Regions from separate parts of the Homo sapiens genome. Here region 2 is linked to region 1. The links come from fine-mapping of genetic effects on gene expression. A gene starts in region 1. The other region holds a variant in brackets. All regions are shown on one strand. Distances are between the middles of the regions.

Region 1 (11,453 bases):
CTGGGATTACAGGCGTGAGCCACCGCGCCTGGCCTAATTTATTTTATTTTTATTTATTTTTTGTTTTTTGAGACGGACTCTTGCTCTGTCACCCAGGCTGGAGTGCAGTGGCAGGATTTCAGCTCACTGCGACCTCCACCTCCTGGGTTCAAGTGATTCTCCTGCCTCAGCCTCTCAGGTAGCTGGGATTACAGGCGCCCACCACCACATCCAGCTAATTTGTGTATTTGTAGTAGAGACAGGATTTCACCAAGTTGGCCAGGCTGTTCTTGAACTCCTGACCTCAAGTGATCTGCCTGCCTCAGCCTCCCGATGTGCTGGGATTACAGGTGTGAGCCACCACGCCCGGCCAATAATAATTTTTTTTTTGAGACGGAATCTTGCTCTGTCACCCAGGCTGGAGTGCAGTGGTGCAATCTCTGCTCACTGCAAGCTCCGCCTCCCGGGCTCACGCCATTCTCCTGCCTCAGCCTCCAGAGTAGCTGGGACTACAGGCGCCCACCACCACGCCCAGAGAATTTTTTGTATTTTTAGTGGAGACGGGGTTCACCGTGTTAGCCAGAATGGTCTCTATCTCCTGACCTCATGATCTGCCCACCTCGAACTACCAAAGTGCTGGGATTATAGGCGTGAGCCACCGCGCCCAGCCTAATAGTTTTTTTAAAATTCCTTGGCATCATCCTGACTCCTCTCTTTCCCTCGCACCCCACATCCAGTCCATCAGCAGATCCTGCCAGTTCTGCTTTAAAAATAAATCCAGGGATCAGCTACTTCTCACCACCTCCCTGGTGACTCTCTGAATGTCTAAATCTGACCATGCTGCCTCTGCTCAAATCCTTTCCAGGTTTTTACTCAAAGGCAATGCCAGAGTCCTTAGAATGACCTTCAACTTTAGGTCTCCAAATACCCTTTCCTAAACCCCCTCCCCTAGGCCCACCCTAGCCAGGAGCAGGTGTTGCCCTCGAGGCCTTACCATCTGCCCTTCTCTCTGCCTGGAACTCTCTTCCCATCATCCCTGTGGCCTTGGCTCCAGTGGTGCTTCTCACCAAGGTGAGTGCTGACCACCTCTGCTACCATCACTCCCCCCGCCCCTGTGACTCCGGATTCTCTTAACTCTTTTTTTTGAGATGAGTCTCACTCTGTCGCCAGGCTGGAGTGCAGTGGCACGATCTTGGCTCACTGCAACCTCCGCCTCCCGGGTTCAAGCGATTCTCCTGCCTCAGCCTCCCGAGTAGCTGGGACTATAGGTGCGCGCCACCATGCCCAGCTAATTTTTGTATTTTTGGTAGAGATGGGGTTTCACCATGTTGGCCAGGATGGTCTCCATCTCTTCACCTTGTGATACGCCCACCTAGGCCTCCCAAAGTGTTGGAATTACAGGCGTGAGCCACCGCGCCCGGCCTCTCTTAACTCTTTTACATGCTGCCCCCATACAAATCTTCTCACGCATGATAGGATGCTTTTGTGCTTGTTTGCTCATGGCCCCACCAGCTCACTAGAAGGTAAGCTCCACAAGGGCAAGGATTCCTGACGCTTGGGTTCACCGAGGCCCCCTAGCAACTGGAACAGCCTGTGTCACACGGTGAGCACTCACTGTGTGGCGCGAGTGAATGCTGAGTGTGTGTGGGGGGCAGAGAGCAGGGGAAGTTTGTGAGCAGAAAAATGGCCAAGTGCAAGCTCAGGAAGTTAAAGAAAGCTGTGGAGGCTGAGCATGGTGGCTCACGCCAGTAATCTCAACAGTCTGGGAGGCCAAGGTGAGAGGATTGCTTGGGCCCAGGAATTCGAGACAAGACTGGGCAACAAAGCAAGACCCCACCTCTACAAAAAATAAAAAATGAGCTGGTGTGGTGGCATGCACCTGTGGTCCCAGCTGTTCTGGAGGCTGAGGCAGGAGGATCGTTTGAGCCCAGGAGTTTGAGGCCTGCCTGGGCAACAAAAGGAGACCCCGCCCCTGCCCTCATCTCATGAAAATGTGAAAAATGCTGGGCATGGTGGCTCACGCCTGTAATCCCAACACTGTTGGGAGGCTGAGGCGGGTGGATTACGAGGTCAGGAAATGGAGACCACCCTGGCTAACACGGTGAAACCCCATCTCTAATAAAAATACAAGAAATTAGCCCGGCATGGTGACACGCGCCTGTAGTCCCAGCTACTCTGGAGGCTGAGGCAGGAGAACTGCTTGAACCCAGGAGGCAGAGGTTGCAGTGAGCCGAGATTGCACCACTGCACCCCAGCCTGGGCAGCAGAGTGAGACTCCGTCTCAGGAAAAAAAAAAAAAAAAAAAGAAAAAGTAAAAAATAAATTAACTGGGTGTGGTCCACACACCTGTATTCCCAGTTACGTGGGAGGATCACTTAAGCCCAGAAGTTCCGGGCTGCAGTGAGCTGAGATCGCACCTCTGTACTCCCTCCTGGGTGATAGAGCGAGACCCTGTCTCAAAACAAAACAAAACAAACAGAAAAAAAGAAAGCAAGCTATGGGGTCCAATCTGAGAGAATCGAGTGTGGGTGTTTATCCGTAAGAGAGCGAGGGGAAAGAGGCCTCTTAAGCCTTCTTAATCCTGAAAATGGGGAGGAGGTCTTTTAAGCTGCAGTGCCAGAGTGACATGACCTAGTTTTCTATTTTTAGAGATGGGGTCTGGCTATGTTGCCCAGGCTGGTCTTGAATTCCTGGGCTCAAGCCAGCCTCCTGAGTTGCTGGGACTACAGACATGTGCCACCCCACCCAGCTTGACCTGGTTTTTGTGTTCAGAAGATATCTGTTGTTGTTCCAGGTGCCAAGGCCAGTGCTGGGCACAGGGGTGCTAGAGCCTACTGAGAAATGGACATAGAACCCCAGTGTCCATCCTTCCATCTTGGAGCCTGTGCTTCTCACCCCACACAGCCCTGCTGTCTGGGAGGACTGTCTGCCCCTTGAGGTCATCTGCCCCTGGCCACTGTGCCAGGACAGTCCTGCTGTGGGTACGAGCCACAGGGCAAGAAAGAACACATCTGGGAGCTGGAAGGCCTAATCCCAGGGAAAGCATGTAGCCTGGGGCAGGGCACCAAGGAGGCTTCCAGCCCCCACATTCTAAGGAAAGAAACACCAGGAAGGTGTGGCCTTAGGCAGGCCCCTTTTCCTTTTCGGATCACTGCCTGCCTGTCACTGATTTCTGTCCTAACCCCACACTAATAGCTGCTATATATATATATATGTATTTTAAGAGCTGGAGTCTCCCTAAGTCACTCAGGCTGGCCTTGAACTTCTGGGCTCAAGCGATCCTCCTGCCTTGGCCTCCCAAAGTGCTGAGATTACAGGTGTGAGCCACCACGCCCGGCAGCAACCATTTTTTAGCTTTAATGTGCACCAGCTCTGTAATCAAGTGCATCCTATATGTTCCTGCTAATTAACTCAACAGTCCTACAATGGTGGTTATTAATTGCTGTTTTACGAAAGAGGAAACTGGGGCTCTGAGAGTTTGGGGACCGACCCAAAGCATTCAGTGCCTGTGGATGCAACTGGGATGCAGGGAGCCAGTGGGCTGGGGGTGAGGTGTCCCGGCAGGTGGAGGTGGTGGGGTACTTACCTCCATGATGGCTGCTGCTGGTTGGCTGCTCCTGCTGGTGACTGGCGTCCCACAGGAGGCCTGGGGCCTGGCGATGATGCTTGCCGGAGCCTGAGGGCCCGTCCCCTGCGGGGCTGGGGCCCAGGCCCCTCTCTGCAGAGCTGGAGTCTTCCTGCTCACTCGGCTCAAACTCTGGGATCTGGAACATGCTCTGGGCTGTGAGGACAAGATGTTACGTAGTCAAGGCACAGCTGGGGCCAACGGTGGCCCTGGAAGGCAGAGGCAGGTACCCCTGGCTTCCTCTCCCACCGTAGCGCCCCCAGGCCCGCCAGGCCTCCTGGGCCCTCATCTGTCTGCCGGGTCTGGCCTGGCAGGGAGCTGAGGCTGTCGGCTCAGGACCTCAGTCTCCCCTCAGAACCCCGGTGGACCCAGGCCCCGCCCCGCCCGTGGTGACGGCGCACAGGTCTCACCCCAAGCCCGATCTCGAGGCCCCTGACCCGGGCCTGCCGCCTCCCTCCAGCACCCCGGGCTCCGGGCCCTAGTTGCTTGGGCAACGGGAACTGTCAGCGACCTGGCCCAATCACCTCTCGGAACGTCACTCGGGTAGGTCCAGAGGCGGGGTCAACCCGGCCCGGCCCCGCCCCCCCGCCGGATCCAAGGCTCCTCGTCCGCATCCTTTTTCCTCCCTCCTTCGGCCCCGGGGCTCACATCCTCGCTGCCTCACACCTTGGGCGTGTGTGGGAGCAGGAGAGGGATTCTCTGGGGTCCCCATTTGGAACCTGGAGACCCACTTCTGCCAACAAGTCCTTCAGCCCCTCTGGGCCTTAGTTTCCCCCCAGTGAAGTGGGGATAGTGACAGCTCCCCCGGGAGCCAGTGAAAACTTTGTGAAGGGAGTGATTACTGCGGGCGAAGGCGCTTGGCACAGCCACAACTGAAGCTCAGCCGTCGGATGTGATTATTGTTGCTATTGTTACCGCTCCGCCTGGACTGGGTGCCCGGTCGGAAAGTCCCGCTCCCCGCTCCTCCTCCCAGGCGCGGAAGCTTCGCGCCGCCCGCCTCGGGGGACACCTCCCGCGCCATCTCGGGGGCACTGGAGATAAGGAAAGGAACCTCCTCCCTGGCTGGGATGGCTGCCCGGGCGCGGGAGGAGGGCCGGGGACCCGGTGAGGGAGGACCGTAGGGCCCGTGGGGGCTTCACGCCTGGCAGGCGGCCGGCCAGGTGAGCAGGGCCGCGGGCGCGCCGGGGCGAGGGGCGGGCCCGCGCGGGGGATTCGGGGCTCCGCGGGTTCAGGCCCGGGGGCGGGGCCCGGGGGCCATCTTGGCTATGGGCGGAAGTTTTCTTCAGAGACCGAGGGACGGGAATCCGTTGCCGCCCCCGGCCGGGCGGCACGACCCCGATTTGGGTATAGGAGAGAGGAGCGTGGGAACTGGCGGACCCCCATACAAGTAAAGGCGGGCGGCACGGGGCACGGCCCACCCGGGGACCCCCTGGATGCGGCACGGCCCCCGCAACTCGGCCGCCCTCCTGCCGCCTCCCGTAACCCCGGGCGCCCGCCAGCGGCGCAGCTCGCGCCAATTCTCGTACGGTTTCACGCCGGGTGCGGCGCTGGACTGCGGAGCCAGCCGGGCCGCTGCGCAATTTGCGTAGCGAACGGCGCCCGCGCAGGCGCGGAGGGGGAGGGGGGCGGAGCAGCGGGAGCCGGGGAGCCGGAGCCCCGGGTCCCCACGACCTGAGCCGGCTCTCCCATCAGCGGCCTGAGGACCTGGCGTCCGCCTCCTCCCTCCCCTTGAGGCTGGAGCGTGGACGCGGTGGGGGAGGGTGGGGCGGGGGCAGCTTTCGAGAATTACGAGGACAGGAGGCAGAGGCCCTCCCCATCCGCATTATTGGAGGAGAGAGAGCCTCCCCCAGCTTGGGGAGGGGGAGAGCGGGGCATTGGGCGCCCCTCGCAGCGGCCGCTGCCCTGACCCGACGGGTATCAGCCGGCTCTCCCCCTCCACCCAGGACGACATGAACGACCGAGGCCAGGGAGTCCTCTCCTTGGGCCTCTGCATCCCCCCATCCTTGGCTCTGGGGTAGGCCCAGGGAGGAGACACCCCCAACCCCTATCCGGTCTGTCCTGGAGAAAAGAGACTGCCCTTCCATGCCCCTGAGTGAGGGGCCTGGGGCCCAGGCTGCCTGTGTTCCCCAAGGGCAAGGGTCTCTCTGTTGAGGAGGAGGGGCCTGTCAGCCACAACTTCTTTCCTCCTGAGCGCCCCATCTCCCTCTCTGCACCCTGCAATTCCCACCCCTCCGTATTTATTTCCCTGGTCCCGCCGACAGTCCCTCCTTGTCTGTCTCCGGGATTCAGGCCTCCCTCCCTGACATGGAGAGTAACCTGTCTGGCCTGGTGCCTGCTGCCGGGCTGGTGCCTGCGCTGCCACCTGCTGTGACCCTGGGGCTGACAGCTGCCTACACCACCCTGTATGCCCTGCTCTTCTTCTCCGTCTATGCCCAGCTCTGGCTGGTGCTTCTGTATGGGCACAAGCGTCTCAGCTATCAGACGGTGTTCCTGGCCCTCTGTCTGCTCTGGGCCGCCTTGCGTACCACCCTCTTCTCCTTCTACTTCCGAGATACTCCCCGCGCCAACCGCCTGGGGCCCTTGCCCTTCTGGCTTCTCTACTGCTGCCCCGTCTGCCTGCAGTTCTTCACCTTGACGCTTATGAACCTCTACTTTGCCCAGGTAACCAACTGTGGTCCCGGGTGGGGGGCGGGAGGTGGCAAGCCTCAAGGACCCACAGGAGTGAAGGGCATCTCTGCTCCTAGGTGGTGTTCAAGGCCAAGGTGAAGCGTCGGCCGGAGATGAGCCGAGGCTTGTAAGTACTCGGGACACTGGTGGGCTCAGCCTCCAGGTCAGGGGCAGGTGACAGTCCCATGTAGATCCCTTCCCACCTCTCAGGGCTGAGACAAAGGCAACCCAGGGAATGTCTGTGGAAGATCTTGGAAAAGTTAAAGCACCTGGCGCAGATGGCTCAGCAGAGGCCTTGCAGATCTGCAAGGCACAGGAATAGGAATGCTTGTGGTAGTGTGAGGGAGAGGGCCCCAGTGTCATCCACCATGGAGGGCGAGCTGGAGGCTCCAGCCCATGGAAGCACCAAAGCCATATGCACTCCTGGGTGACCTGGGGCCGCAATGCCCTCGTCATTTGTACAGTGTCTTACGGTTTATAAAGAGCTTTCCCAGCCATCTTTTATTTGTACAATTTCCCTGAGAGGCTACTATCCTCCCTTGAGAGATGAAGAAACTGAGGCCCAGCCAGGTAAGACAGCAGGATCAAGGTCGCAGAGCTGGGGCTCAGACAGAGACTTCTGACTCCAGTTGGTGCACCTTCCGAAGTACCATGGCTGTCAGTCACCTTCTGACCTTTTTGGGCCTCAGTTTCTCCATCTGTAAGAGTGGAGGAACAGGGCTCAGACTGGATGCCCTGAGTTTTGTCGACATTGGGGTTTCCTGCAGGAGGTGGGGCAGGTGGTGAGTGCTGAGGGCTGTTGAGGGCCCGCGCTGACTGTGCTGTGGCTGCAGGCTCGCTGTCCGAGGGGCCTTTGTGGGGGCCTCGCTGCTCTTTCTGCTGGTGAACGTGCTGTGTGCTGTGCTCTCCCATCGGCGCCGGGCACAGCCCTGGGCCCTGCTGCTTGTCCGCGTCCTGGTGAGCGACTCCCTGTTCGTCATCTGCGCGCTGTCTCTTGCTGCCTGCCTCTGCCTCGTCGCCAGGCGGGCGCCCTCCACTAGCATCTACCTGGAGGCCAAGGTAGGGCTGCAGCACTGATGCCCAGGTGTCTTTTGGGTCTCTCGGCAGCGGTTCTCAGGGTGTAGAGGAAGCTGGGAGCCTTCTCTCCCTGAGGGTCCTCTGTTGTTACCTGTGCCAGGGGACCAGTGTGTGCCAGGCGGCCGCGATGGGTGGCGCCATGGTCCTGCTCTATGCCAGCCGGGCCTGCTACAACCTGACAGCACTGGCCTTGGCCCCCCAGAGCCGGCTGGACACCTTCGATTACGACTGGTACAATGTGTCTGACCAGGTGGGCATACGCATGTCTGCCACCTCCTTAGTAGCCGTGGCACCTTGGCCCCAGCTGGCCTGGGCCCTGTCCCACTACCCCTTTGGCGTGACTGCAGACTGGCACCAGCCCCTGCCTTCCCACAGGCGGACCTGGTGAATGACCTGGGGAACAAAGGCTACCTGGTATTTGGCCTCATCCTCTTCGTGTGGGAGCTACTGCCCACCACCCTGCTGGTGGGCTTCTTCCGGGTGCACCGGCCCCCACAGGACCTGGTAAGGGTCTGCTCCCTCTTCTGTGGGGCCAGTGGAGGGGGCGGATGTTGCAAATCCTGGGTTGGAGTCTGGGGTTGGGCCTGGGAGGCCAGTGCAGGACAGGAGTAAGTATCGATGATGGCTTCCTCCCCCAGAGCACCAGCCACATCCTCAATGGGCAGGTCTTTGCCTCTCGGTCCTACTTCTTTGACCGGGCTGGGCACTGTGAAGATGAGGGCTGCTCCTGGGAGCACAGCCGGGGTGAGAGCACCAGGTAGGAGCCGTGGCACTGCCTCAGTACCCCTGCCCTACCCGCCCACCCCGCTGGCTCCATCAAGCTATGGGGGACCGAGATAGCCGGGTCTTGCCTTCCACCCCTGCCATGGCCTTTGCTTCCCCATCTGTACTAGGTGAGGTCCCCTGGGTTCCTATTGCTAAAGCCTCCACCTCTTGCCTAGAGATGTACTTTGTCCTGGGCCCCGAAGGTCTAGGTCACAGGGGTTCTGTTCTAAGCCTGTCTTCCTCCTGCAGCTCTTGTGACTGTGGCCCTGGTCACTGTCCTGAGACTGACCCTGTTTCTCTGCTGCAGTATGTCGGGCAGTCTAGGCTCTGGGAGCTGGTATGGTGCCATCGGGCGTGAGCCGGGCTGGTATGGGGGCAGCCAGACGAAGACCACTCCTCTGCTCTTCTCCCAGGTGCCAGGACCAGGCGGCCACCACCACAGTCTCTACTCCACCCCACAGACGTGATCCCCCTCCCTCCCCCACAGAATACCCAGGCCCCAGTCCCCCTCACCCTAGGCCCCTGTGCCAAGTTTGTCTGCCGCTTCTTGCCCAGGATCCTGGGGGTCGTGGCTACCCCCTCCTCTGGCCGGCTCCTTGCTGCTCCTGTCATAGTGAGCTTGTGCCGTCCCCCTAGGATGGGGGGCATGGCCCTGGCTGCCAGATGCCCACAGCACCCTGGCATGACCTGCCACCTCTGCTTCCACACCGGAGCCAGCTACCTCTCCTGTGCCTGCCACTCAATAAACAGTGTCTGCGCCCCACAGTTGTGCACCTGTCTGTCATCTGCCTTGTGTTCCTATCACTTTTGCCTGTTTGGCCTAAGGCTGAACAGACACTAGCCCTTGAAGTGGGCTGCTAGGCTGGGCAGGGGTGACTTACCCCATCAAGGCTGGTGGGCTGGGAGAGGAGGGGCCTGCAGTTTGCAAGGGAAGGAGACCACACAGGCCTTTGTTCTCAAAGCTCTCCTGGCCCAGAATTGCCCCACTACCTCCAGATCCCTCTCCACTTGAACAGTTGCTACTCTTTCCTCAAGACCTGCGTCAACTGTTACCTCCTTTAGGAAGCCTTCTGTCTCCTGGTCAAGGGACATGGCCCCTCTGCTGGGCCCCACAGCTCCACATTACTGATTATGTGGCCATTGAGGTTCTTTGTTTTGTTTTGTTTTTTGAAGCAGGGTCTCACTCTGTCACTCAGACTGGAGTGCAGTGGCACGATCATGGCCCACTGCAGCCTCAACCTACCAGGCTCAAGCAATCCTCCTGCCTCAGCCTCCCGAGTAGCTGGGAATACAGGCACATGCCACCATTCCTGACTAATTTTTTAATTTTTAATTTTAGAGGTGGGGTTTCACCATGTTGCCCAGGCTGGTGTCGAACCCCCGGGCTCAAGCAATCCACCCACCTCAGCTTCCCAAAGTGCTGGGATTACAGGCATGAGGTACCATGCCTGGCAGCTTCTGAGTCTTAACCCCAATGGATTAGACTTTCTGGAGGCCCTGTTTCCCTATCACCACCCCAACCTGGTCTTTAGGAGTCAGGAGTTAGTCCAGGGCTTGCTGGGGAGTTGGCGCAGTGACTGAGCAGCCCCCATCTTCCTACCAGGGCGTGGGTTTGCCCAGATGTACAGGTGGTCCCCTAGCTATGCCCTCCCGTTAGCCCTCTTCTCCACTGTCCTTAGTAGCATAGTCACTGCCCTCTGCTTCCATGGCCCTGGCAGGTCTGTCTGATGGCTAGGAGTCCTTTGCTGGAGGGTCTGTCCCCTGCCCACATAGGTGGTTGTCCCAGCTTTTCAGAGTTCCCTTGGCTTATCACTGGGCCTGCTTCAAAACCCTTTACTTGGGACCATCCTGGGCACCAGGCCCTCAGGGCCTCCAGAGAGGGCATCTGAGACTCATAGAGAATCAGCTTGAAGCTGGACAATCACTTTTTGTTGAAATAAAAACTGCTAACGTTTGTGGGGCACTTTATTGTGTGTGCCAGGCTCTGTTTTGAGGATTTCTAAACACTGGCCTCCTTAATGCCCAGAACAGCACCCCGAAGTGATGATTAATCATCCCTTTTCTGTAAGTGGGAACAGGGAGACTCCAGAGTTTGGTAACCTGTTCAGGTTCCCTACCAGTAGCGGGTGGTCAGCCTCAAAGCCCAGGCTGAAAGCCATCCAGCATGAGGGCTGAGGACCCCAGCAGGCACCAGAGGGTCTTTGGAGAGGTCACAGGTTGTCAAGTGGGTGAGAACAGGGCGGGGCAAGTTCAGGACCAGCCAGGGCCTGGGTGTTCAGGCAGTGGGAGAGTGGATGCTGGCACCAGTGCCATGCTGGGATCTGCAGGCAGCTTCAGCCACAGCCTTCCGGGGCTGATTTCTGGGCATGGAAGTGAGAACCAAAAGCTGGGGCAGGGAGCACCCTGGAGGGATAGCCGGGGAGCAGGTAGAGGGCCAAAACCTGGAGTGGGGGCAGGAGGTGCTCCAGCAGCAACTCCCCCAGAGGTGGGTCCCAACCTCCACGTCGGCCAATTCCAGGTGGCCCCACCGGGTTTCCCCCACCCCTTTGTCCCGCGGAGCCCCTCCCTCATGAGTGCTGAGCCCAAGGGCCAGGCTGTCCCCAGGGGCGGAGAGTTGCGGACCCTTCCCGATCCGGTAATGGGCCTGGGAGATGCCAGATTAGCGTGGTGCCTGTCCGGAGAGACGGGCCAGCTGATGCCCAGGTCGGGGCCCTGCCGCTGGCCACACTGGGCTCCGGTCCAAGGCTAGAAGGCTGGCCCCTGCTGCAACCCCTCTCCGGCTCCTCTGCCACCCACCTCCCGGGGCTGGCCGGCTGTGGGGAGCCAGGCGGCCGCAGGTAAACGGCTTGGGGCGGCGCCGGCGGCGAGGGCGCTGCACGGAGGGAAGCGCGGCGCCGGAGGGGTTAACCGCGGGAGGAGGGGGGCTTCTGCCGGCGGGAGGGGGGTCCCAGCCCCGGCGGCCGCCCGCTCCGCCCCTGCCGCCTCCGCGGCCCAGTCGGCACCGGCGAGGCCGTGCTGGAACCCGGGCCTCAGCCGCAGCCGCAGCGGGGCCGACAGTAAGTGCGGTGCGGGCTCCGGTGCGCGGGCAGGACTCAGGGGCAGGGACGCCCCAGGGGCGACTGGCCGGGCGGGGTGCCCACCTCTCGCGCGTGGGCGCCTCCGGGAGTGGTGTGGCCGCCGGTCCCGCCGCCCGCCACGCTCCGAGGCGTCGCTGTGCGGACGCGGGGGAGGCGGTGGGAGCGAGCTGCGGGCGCTGCGCGGTGGCCCTGCTGTCTGGCGTGTGCACGCTAGTGTCCACACACGTGTGCGTGGGCTCTGGGTGCCCTGGCGCGGCCGGCAC
Region 2 (9,693 bases), 42 kb after region 1:
GTGGAGGGTGGGACAATCCCATGCTGCCGCAGCAAGGTGGGTAGCAGGAGTAGGGGGGGAATGTTGGGGACAAGAGAGGATGCCTGGAGGTCAGTGGGCTCTCTGAAGCTGATGAGCAGCTTGCCTTCCACCCTACAGGCACCTTGGCCATGGGCTACCGTGTGCAGCCCCCAAGCTGGGAGGCTGGGAGAGGCACCAGATGGGCAGCAGGGAGCAGGACCCATGATGACAGCAATGCCCAGGAGGTGGAGGTGGAGATGTGTTGGGAGGGAGGGTGCATCCAGGGAGCTGCTTGCTGAAGGTGGAGGGGCTGGGTGCTTGTGGTCACGTCTGTGAGAACAGACACTCAGTAGGAGGGGAGCCAGCCTCCCTGCCCAGGGTTGCAGGTGCTCAGCCTACCCGAGTCGTGCTGCCCACCAACCTCTGTCACTGTGGTTCTCTCCCACAACCTGCCACCCCTTCAGGGGTCCCAGGTGGGGGCAGGGAAGGAGGCTGACTGCACCTCGAGCTGCCCTGGTAAACTGCCTGCCTCTCCTCTCCTGCCAAACTCGGGGGTACAGTGTTGTCCTCATGGACACGCATAACACAAAGCCCCTTTCTTTCCCGGATACCACCTCTTTATCCTCTCATCATACAAATGAGAAAACAGACGTGGAGCTTCCTACAGGGCACCTGTGAGCTAATGAGTGTCTCCATTAGTAAATAGGGGGTGGTGGTAGCAAATAGCCCACCCCACTGGCTGTGCACCCCACGCTACCCAGGCAGCTCCCTGCTATCGGGGAAGCCCAGCTCCGTCTCTGTCACTCTGCTGCCTGTTTCCTCTGCTCCTGGGCTATTATCTGGGCTGGCTGAGGCCAAGCAAGGCCTCTAGAGGAAGTGTCCCCTCCAAGGTCTGTTGCCACTGGCTGGGCCTCTAGGAAGGGTTGAGAGGGCTTCCAGGGCTGGGGTGGCCCTCTAGGACAGCCTGGTGTGGGTGGCGGTGGGGCTGTGGCCTCAGTGGCCCTGACTGCTGAGCATGTGGCTGAGCTTGCTGGAGTGAGGACGTCCTTGGGTGGGGGCACGGAGGACTGGCCCTGGAAGCTGCTCCAGGCCCTGGAGGGCCCAAGATTAAACAGCACCTGGCAAGAGAACCTTGCATAGCTGTCTCCAGGTTGGACAGGTGGGGCTTCAGGCCTGGAGATAAGGGCAGACCAGGCCACGGTGTCCTGGACCAGAGAGCCCTGGACATCTGGGCTGCACCTGGCAGAGCTGTGCGTGTGGCCTTCCTGGGCTCTTGGTGGCCGAAAGACCAATGTTAAAAAACATAACAGGCCAGGCGGGGTGGCTTACACCTGTAATCCCAGCACCGTGGGAGGCCAAGGCGGGTGGATCATTTTAGGTCAGGAGTTTGAGACTAGCCTGGCCAACATGGAGAAATCCCATATCTACTAAAAATACAAAAATTACTTGGGCATGGTGGCGCATGTCTGTAATCCCGGCTACTGGGGAGGGAGGCTGAGGCAGGAGAATTGCTTGAACCTGGGAGGTGGAGGTTGCAGTGAGCCGAGATCGTGCCACTGCATGCCAGCCTGGGAGACAGAGCAGGAGTCTGTCTCAAAAAAAAAAAAAAAAAAAAAAAAAAGAAAAGAAGCTGAAACATCCACCCAACAACACATGCCCCAGTGAAACTCACTTGCCTGTCCTAGCATGCCCAAGGCCATAGCAACTGAGACCAGAAGGCCAAGGGTGTTACTCAGCATCAGTGGTTCTGGGCCTTCCTGGGTCTAGAGTCCCTTTGAAACGCAGCTGAACAGACCCCAACATGAGCCTGAAGAGTGTTGACCTAAAAGGAAGAAGCCTAGGCAAAATTAATATCAGCGGAGACTTTATTTGGGCCAAGCTTGAGGATTGCATCCCAGGAGCACAGATTCAAGTTGCCCTGAATATACACTCCGATTAGCAGAAGTTGAAATGGATTTTAAAAGGACAAGAGAGCTCCTGAGTTGTTTACTAAGAATTTACATTAAAATAACAAACTGGCTGGCTGCAGTGGCTCAGGCCTGTAATCCCGGTTCCTCTGGCAGCTGAGGTGGAAGCATTGATTCAGGCCAGTTTGAGACCAGCTTGGACAACATAGCAAGACACCGTCCCTACAAAATAAATAAATAAATAAATAAGTAAATATATAAATAAGTTGTCGTAGTGCATGCCTGTGGTCGTAGCTACTCAGGAGGCTGAGGCGGGAGGATCGCTTGACACCAGGAGTTGGTGACTAACTACAGTTAGTGAGCTATAATCGTGCCACTACCCTCCAGCCTGGGTGACAGAGCGAGACCTTGTCTCTAAAAAAATAAAAATAGGCCGGGTGTGGTGGCTCACACCTATAATCCCAGCACTTTGGGAGGCTGAGGTGGGCGGATCACCTGAGGTCGGGAGTTCGAGACCAGCCTAACCAACATGGAGAAACCCCGTCTCTACTAAAAATACAAAATTAGCCAGGTGTGGTGGCTCATGCCTGTAATCCCAGCTACTCGGGCGGCTGAGGCAGAAGAATCACTTGAACCTGGGAGGCGGAGGTTTTGGTGAGCCAAGATCTCACCACTGCACTCCAGCCTGGGCAACAAGAGCCAAACTCTGTCTCAAAAAAAAAAAAACCCAAAACAAAAACAACTAAATAAAAATAAATTAGTGACACCCCGTCTCTACCAAAAAAATAAAATAATTGGGTGGGTGTGGTAGCACGTGCCTATAGTTCGAGCTACTCCAGAGGCTGAGTTGGGAAAATCACTTGAGCCCAGGAGGCCAAGACTGCAGTGAGTTATGATTATGCCACTGCACTCCAGCCTGGGTAATAGAGCAAGACCCTGCCTCAAAAAAAAAAAAAAAAAAAAAAGGCTCAATAAAAGGTTATTTGAAAGATAAAAATCAGGCCAGGCATGGTGGCTCACGCCTGTAATCCTAGCACTTTGGGAGGCTGAGGTGGGCGGATCACCTGAGGTCAGGAGTTTGAGACCAGCCTGGCCAACATGGTGAAACCCCATCTCTACTAAAAATACAAAATTAGCCAGGCATGGTGGTGCCATGCCTGTAGTCCCAGCTACTTGGGAGGCTGAGACAGGAGAATTACTTGAACCTGGGAGGCAGAGGTTGCAGTGAGTCGAGATCACGCCATTGCACTCCAACCTGGGCAACAGAATGAGTCTCACCACAACCTCCGCTTCCCGGGTTCAAGCGATTCTTGTGCCTCAGCCTCCTGAGTAACTGGGACTACAGGCGCGTGCCACCATGCCCGGCTACTTTTTGTATTTTTTAGTAGAGATGGGGTTTCATTATGTTGGCCAGGCTGGTCTTGAACTCCTGGCCTCGTGATCTGCCCGCCTCAGCCTCACAAAGTGCTGGGATTATACGTGTGAGCCACCGCGCCTGGCCTATCGGGGGAGTTTTCAATAGGCCCTAAGGGAGTCAAGTCTGGGTTTCTGAGACAAAGAAAAGGTTGGAGGGGTCCTGGTGTTCCTGGCCTAGATCAGGCTTGGGCTGCAGCCATGAAGGTGCTGTGATCAGGGGCAGTGGAGGCTGCTGGCCCCAAAGGGACACACTCTACTGGGCGTGGTTGGGGTTTGGTGACACAGGCATTGAGAAGTGACAGCAGATAGTGCAAAGTGTGCATGGGTATAACTTCTGGAGAAGTTCAGGTAACATCTATGCGAAGGCACAGATTCTTGGTGTTAACGAGCATGCATATTGGCCTGCCATGTGATTATATTTGTATCATCAACTCGCACTCCTGGAGTTGGGAATCATGTCTTTTTACTTAACACAGGTAAGGAGCCCTGCTCAGGGTGGGAAACACAGATAATACTTAACACGTTTTGGGAAGGAGTAAAGAAGTGAAGGCCAGGCGTGGTAGCTCACGCCTGTAATCCCAGCACTTTGGGAGGCAGAGGTGAGCGGATCACCTGAGGTCCGGAGTTCGAGCCCAGCCTGACCAACATGGAGAAACCCCGTCTCTACTAAAAATACAAAATTAGCAGGGCGTGGTGGTGCATGCTTGTAATCCCAGCTACTCAGGAGGCTGAGGCAGGAGAATCGCTTGAACCTGGGAGGTGGAGATTGCAGTGAGCCGAGATTGTGCCATTGTCTGGGCAACAAGAGCAAAACTCCATCTCAAAACAAAACAACACAACAACAACAAAAAAACAAAGGCTTAGCTCACAGGTATGCACTAGAGAGGTTGAGCTAGTATGCTAGCTGTGTGATTATTCCTTCTGTCTTGCTGCTCTGCCATTTTAAACACGTCTTTACCTTATGATCCACTGTGGCTGCTTGAGTTCCAGCCATCACATTCATCGTCCAGCCTGCAGGAAGGAGGAAATGAAGAACAGAAGATAAAAGGCCCATGCCAGCTGTCTGTCAAGAAGCTTTTTCTGGAAGCTGTCATATATCCCTTCCACTTACATCTCACTGGACAGAACTTAGTCACATGGTCATACTAGCTGCAAAGGAAGCTGAGAAGTATCAACTTCATTCCAGGGTGCCATGTGTCTAAATTAAAAATTATGAGTTTTTTTAGTCAGGGAGAGAGAGAGAAAGGATATTGGGTGGACAGCAAGCAGTGTGGCCACACAGGGATCACCTCTGAGAAGAGGGACCTTTGAGGTTCCATGCTTCCCAGGAGATGCCCACTTCCCTGCCTTTCCTGTCAGCCATGGAAGGGCATGGTTAATACGAAGCTGGCCCAGATCCACGTGTGGTCCCCTCATCTCCCCAGTGACTTCTCTCCAAGCCTCTGTCCCCATTCCCTGCAACCTTGGTCACCAAAGTCACCCTGATTCCCA[A/G]TTGTGGGTCCTCCAATCTCTTCCCTTTCAGCATCTACCAGACAATGTTCCCCGCTGGGATGCCCCTGCCCAGATCACTCTAACCTTCAGGGCCCCAAGTCAGTTTCACTGCTGAGGACAACAGCCCTCTTTCCTGGTTCCCTGTCCCTTTCCTGAATTAGTTTCTGCGGGAACTGAGCCACATGGTTCGGCTTCATCAAAGATAGATTTGCCAAATTGACATACAATTCACATATCATAAAATTCAGCCTGTAAAATTGTACAAAGGCTAGACATGGTGGCTCATGCCTGTAATCCCAGCACTTTGTGGGGGTGAAGGGGGATGCTTACTTGAGTCCAGGAGTTTGAGACCAGTCTGGGCAATATAATGAGACCTTGTCTCTTTTTTTTTTTTAAAGTGTACAAGTCGGTTGTTTTCAATATATTCACCGAGTTGTGCAACCATCACCACTAAGGCACAGGCGGATCTTTTTTTTTTTTTTTTTTGAGATGGAGTCTTGCTCTGGCACAATCTCGGCTCACTGCAAGCTCCGCGTCCCGGGTTCATGCCATTCTCCTGCCTCAGCCTCCTGAGTAGCTGGGACTACAGGCGCCCGCCACCATGCCCGGCTAATTTTTTGTATTTTTAGTAGAGACGGGGTTTCACCGTGTTAGCCAGGATGGTCTCGATCTCCTGACCTCGTGATCCGCCCGCCTTGGCCTCCCAAAGGCCTCCCGGCCTTTTTTTTTTTTTTTTTTTTTTGAGACAGGGTCTCCTTCTGTCACCCAGGCTGGAGTGCAGTGGCACGATCTCGGCTCACCACCAGCCTCTACCTCCTGGGTTCAAGTGATCTTCCTGCCTCAGTCTCCCTAGTAACTGGGACTACAGGCATGAACCACCATGCTCAGATAATTTTTGATTTTTTTTGGTAGAGACAAAGTCTCTCTGTGTTGCCTGGTCTGGTCTCAAACTCCTCTGCTCAAGTGATCCTCCTGCCTTGGCCTCCCAAAGTGCTGGGATTACAAGCATGAGACACTATGCCCGACCCTAAGACAGATCTTTAATCTCAGTGACTTCTCACCAAAAGAAGCTGCTTTTCTCCTCTGAGCATTGCAATTCTCATGTCATTATGAGTGGCCCAATCAGGTGTTCAGAGGTTCCACTTGCTCACCTGTGTCTCCTCACAGTCACATAGGTATCTTCCCTTCAGTGCCTCTTTGCTGAAAATCATCTCTGCACCAGGCACTGTGCGAGGCTCTGGGGATACAGCAGTGAATATGCCGTGCATGGGCCCTGCAGGCATCAGGTACCAGGTGGGAAGGGTGTTCCAGGGGTGGGAACAGCCACTGCTAAGGTCTGCAGGCCAGGAAGATGAGGGAGGTCTGGGCTGAGCAGTGGTGAGGATGGAGATGGGATATTGCCCGCAAGCTGTGGCTCGCGTGGTTTATCTTGGTGGAGAGCTGGGTGTTTCCAGTGTTTGGCTGGGGCAGCTTCCAGCTTTGGACACACTTCTATTTTTGTTTCCTCTTGGGCTCCTTCTACAGGGCTTATTCCCAAACGCTGGAGTGCTGGGTCAAAGGGCTCCGGAGGTTTTATTGGTCTCAGGAAATTCTGAGACCGTGCTGACTTGTACGCTTTTAGAGAGTGAATTTTATGACATGTGAATTGTATGCCAATTTGGCAAATCTATCTTTGATGAAGCTGACCAGTGTGGCCCAGTTCCCACATGGAACAATTCAGGGCAGGGACAGGGAGCCAGGTGTGAGGGCTGTTGCCTCTGAGCCACCTGTGACCTGTGCTGTGTTCTCTGCTGCAGTTGCCAACTAGAGTTGAGTTTTACCTTTTGGATTTATTTTTTGCCAGTTTAATGGATGTTTAATGGCACCTCGGAGCTGTCTTTAATGTGTGTGTCTTTAATTACGAGGGCAACTGGCAGCCATGGGGCTTGGCCCTGGATTTCCACCTTGTTTCCTAATTGGATGCTGGGCTCCAGCCTTGCTGTCCCACCCGACAGCAACAAGGAGTGGAGTGGAGCCGGGTGCAGTGGCTCGCGCCTGTAATCCCAGCACTTTGGGAGGCCGAGGCGGGTGGATCACCTGAGGTCGGGAGTTCGAGACCAGCCTGACCAACATGGAGAAACCCTGTCTCTACTAAAAATACAAAATTAGCCGGTCGTAGTGGCGCTTGCCTGTAATCCCAGCTATGTGGGAGGCTGAGGCAGGAGAATTGCTTGAACCCAGGAGGCAGAGGTTGCAGTGAGCTGAGATCGAGCCACTGCACTCCAGCCTGGGTAAGAGCAAGACTCTGTCTCCAAAAACACAAAACAAAACAAAACAAAACAAAACAAAATACAAAGGAATGGAGTGGAGGAGGTGGCGGGGAGCAGGGGGTGGAGGGTGGGGTGGGGTTGTGGGTAGAGTGGGGCTGGGAGACTGCGAGCTCTTAGCGCCAGAGGAGGACTGAGATTTCAGCCTCAGCTGCCCTACTTGCCCCCATTCCCTTCTGAGCTGCACTTTCCTGGCCTCTGAAATAAGAGTTCATTTGTTCAAAAACATAAAAAAAAAAAAAAACTGCCTTCAGTATCTTGGCTCTGCCACTTCCTGGCTGTGTGGCCTTAAGCAAGTGACTTAACCTCTCTGGGCATCAATTTTTTTCATTGTAAAGTGGGGATAACCAATAGATCCTGCATTTTTTTTTTTTTTTTTTTAGATGGAGTCTCTCTGTCGCCCAGGCTGGAGTGCAGTGGCGCAATCTCGGCTCACTGCAAGCTCCATCTCCCGGGTTCACGCCGTTCTCCTGCCTCAGCCTCCCGAGTAGCTGGGACTACAGGTGCCCGCCACCGTGCCCGGCTAATTTTTTTTTTTTTTTGTATTTTTAGTAGAGACGGGATTTCACCGTGGTCTTGATCTCCTGACCTTGTGATCTGCCCACCTCGGTCTCCCAAAGTGGTGGGATTACAGGTGTGAGCCATCGCGCCCGGCCAGCTCCTGTATTTTGCAGCTGAGGAGGGGATTAAGTGATTGAGATGTGGGAAGTGCTTAGAATGGAGCCCAGCAGAGATCAGTGGGCAGCGGACATCGGTGCTCTCATGGACCCAGTGGGCTCAGCACTGCGCTCTCTGCACTGCAGTCATGGGTGAGCCCATGATGGCTTCCACTTGACAGGGGAGCAGGCAAAGCAAGCACGCGAAGGTGCCGGGTGCATGGAGTGGAACCCTGCTGTGGGAGGAGGATGGGGGCTGCTTTACAAGAGAAAGGACTTTTCTTTTCTTTTGTTTTTTGAGACAGGGTCTCACTTTGTCACCCAGGCTGGAGTGCAGTGGTGTGATCACAGCTCACTGTAGCCTTGAACTCCTGGGCTCAAGTGATCCTTCTGCCTCAGCCTCCCTTGTTGCTGGGATGACAGGTGTGCTCCATCATGTGAGGCTAATTTTTGGATTTTTTTGTAGAGATGAGGTCTCACCATGTTGTCCAAGTTGGTCTTGAACCCCTGGGCTCAAGCAATCCTCTTGCCTCAGCCTCACAAAGTGCTGGGATTACAGGTGTGAGCTACCATGCCAGGTCATGAAAGGACTTTTCTGAGAAAGGGACATTTGAGAGACCAGTATGGGATAAGGGGAAAGGGTGTGTGTGTGTGTGCGTGTGTGTGTGTGAATGTGTGTGAGCATGTGTGAATGTGTGTAAGCATGTGTGAATGTGCATGCGTGTGAGCATGTGTGAATGTGTGTGTGTAGGGAGTTGGGGAGTGTGTGACTCAGACATGTTGAGCTCCAAGTTGAGTGGTCGGCGATGCAAAGGTGCCGAGTGGGGGAGAGCGATTGAGGAACCAGCGTGGCCAGAGTGGAGGAGAGGAGGAAGGATGAGGTCAGGGTGGTGAGGCGGCACCTCTCCACGGCCTTGAAGGTCATGGTGAGCTGCTGAGTCAACTCAGGGAGAAGCCACTGGAGAGCTTTAAGCCCGGCATGGCCGTGAGCCAGGCAGTTTCTGAATGACTCCTTCAGTGCTGGGTGGATGCCCCCTGGAGGAGGATTCGTGCCTGCACCCCAGCATGGCTTGGAGGCACAGGGTGAGGCACAGCAAGTGCCCCCCTGGAGCATGGGAGTGCCCGGGGAGAACAGGAAGGGAGAGCCGGCCTGGTGTCAGGTAGTGGGGGCTGGGCCGGGCCTCACTCTACAGTAGCGGGACCCCAGGCCGCGCAGGCTGCACTCTGAGTCACGGGGCACCTGGACGGGCACTGGGCAAATGGCCCTGGGCCCCACCCTTCCTGGCTCTGGCTTCCCACTGCCTCCTGCCACCTGGGTAGCTCTTTGGGACCACTCCCCTGGGCATTACTGCTAACTCCACCTCCACTATTTCACCCTCAAGTGGTGGGTGGGGAGACGACCCCTTCTCAGACACTTGGGTGGGAAGGAGGGGGACCCCGAAGATCTAGCAACAGAGGGTCAGCTGCCCAGAAGGCTTTGGAGGCTGTTTTTTGTTTTTTGAGACTGGGGCCCTGAATTATCTGCTTAGAGAGCTGGGCCCCAGCCAGGCCGCTGGGGTGCCAGGCGGAGCTCCGGGGCTGCCTGCAGCAGGGAGAAAGCCTCACTCTGACCTGGCTCTGGTTGGCTCAGGGCTCTTGCTGGATCTGGGCCCCCACCTGCCCTGGCCTCCTTGGCTTCCCCTTCCGCCCAAACCCCAGAGCCCTCCTGCTTCTGGCCTTTGAGACTGAACCAGAGCTAGCTAAAAAATTCGAACCCAGGCCGGGAGTGGTGGCTCACACCTGTAATCCCAGCACTTTGGGAGGCTGAAGCGGGTGGATCACCTGAGAGGTCAGGGGTTCCAGACCAGCCTGCAACGTGGTGAAACCCCCGTCTCTACTAAAAATACAAAAATTAGCCAGGTGTAGTGGCGCACGCCT

The links. PIP is the estimated chance that this variant, and not a neighbour inherited with it, causes the effect.
Region 2: its variant is fine-mapped to the expression of GPR137 in whole blood (TOPMed, PIP 0.99).

Annotation. Positions count from the first base shown.
Region 1 is chr11:64,280,617-64,292,069 of GRCh38, forward strand. It overlaps GPR137 (G protein-coupled receptor 137), which reads left to right and starts at 5,232. Exons shown (of 7, transcript NM_001170880.2): 1 at 5,232-6,265; 2 at 6,349-6,398; 3 at 7,105-7,330; 4 at 7,449-7,598; 5 at 7,724-7,852; 6 at 7,987-8,105; 7 at 8,421-8,878. The coding sequence starts at 5,909. The coding sequence ends at 8,580. It overlaps BAD (BCL2 associated agonist of cell death), which reads right to left and starts at 4,049. Exons shown (of 4, transcript NM_032989.3): 1 at 4,015-4,049; 2 at 3,566-3,760. The coding sequence starts at 3,752. KCNK4 (potassium two pore domain channel subfamily K member 4) reads left to right here and starts at 10,686. Exons shown (of 7, transcript NM_033310.3): 1 at 10,686-10,950. It overlaps KCNK4-CATSPERZ (KCNK4-CATSPERZ readthrough (NMD candidate)), which reads left to right and starts at 11,106. Exons shown (of 11, transcript NR_133662.1): 1 at 11,106-11,169. RefSeq lists silencers at 3,929-4,218, 4,569-5,308.
Region 2 is chr11:64,323,203-64,332,895 of GRCh38, forward strand. LOC102723878 (a long non-coding RNA gene) reads right to left here. Exons shown (of 4, transcript NR_188518.1): 3 at 4,282-4,334; 4 at 1,848-2,129. Among named protein-coding and RNA genes, the nearest start is that of PRDX5, 9.9 kb to the left of the region's middle. RefSeq lists a silencer at 2,138-2,290 and enhancers at 7,832-8,354, 8,620-8,669. The variant A/G (reference allele first, on the strand shown) is at 4,815.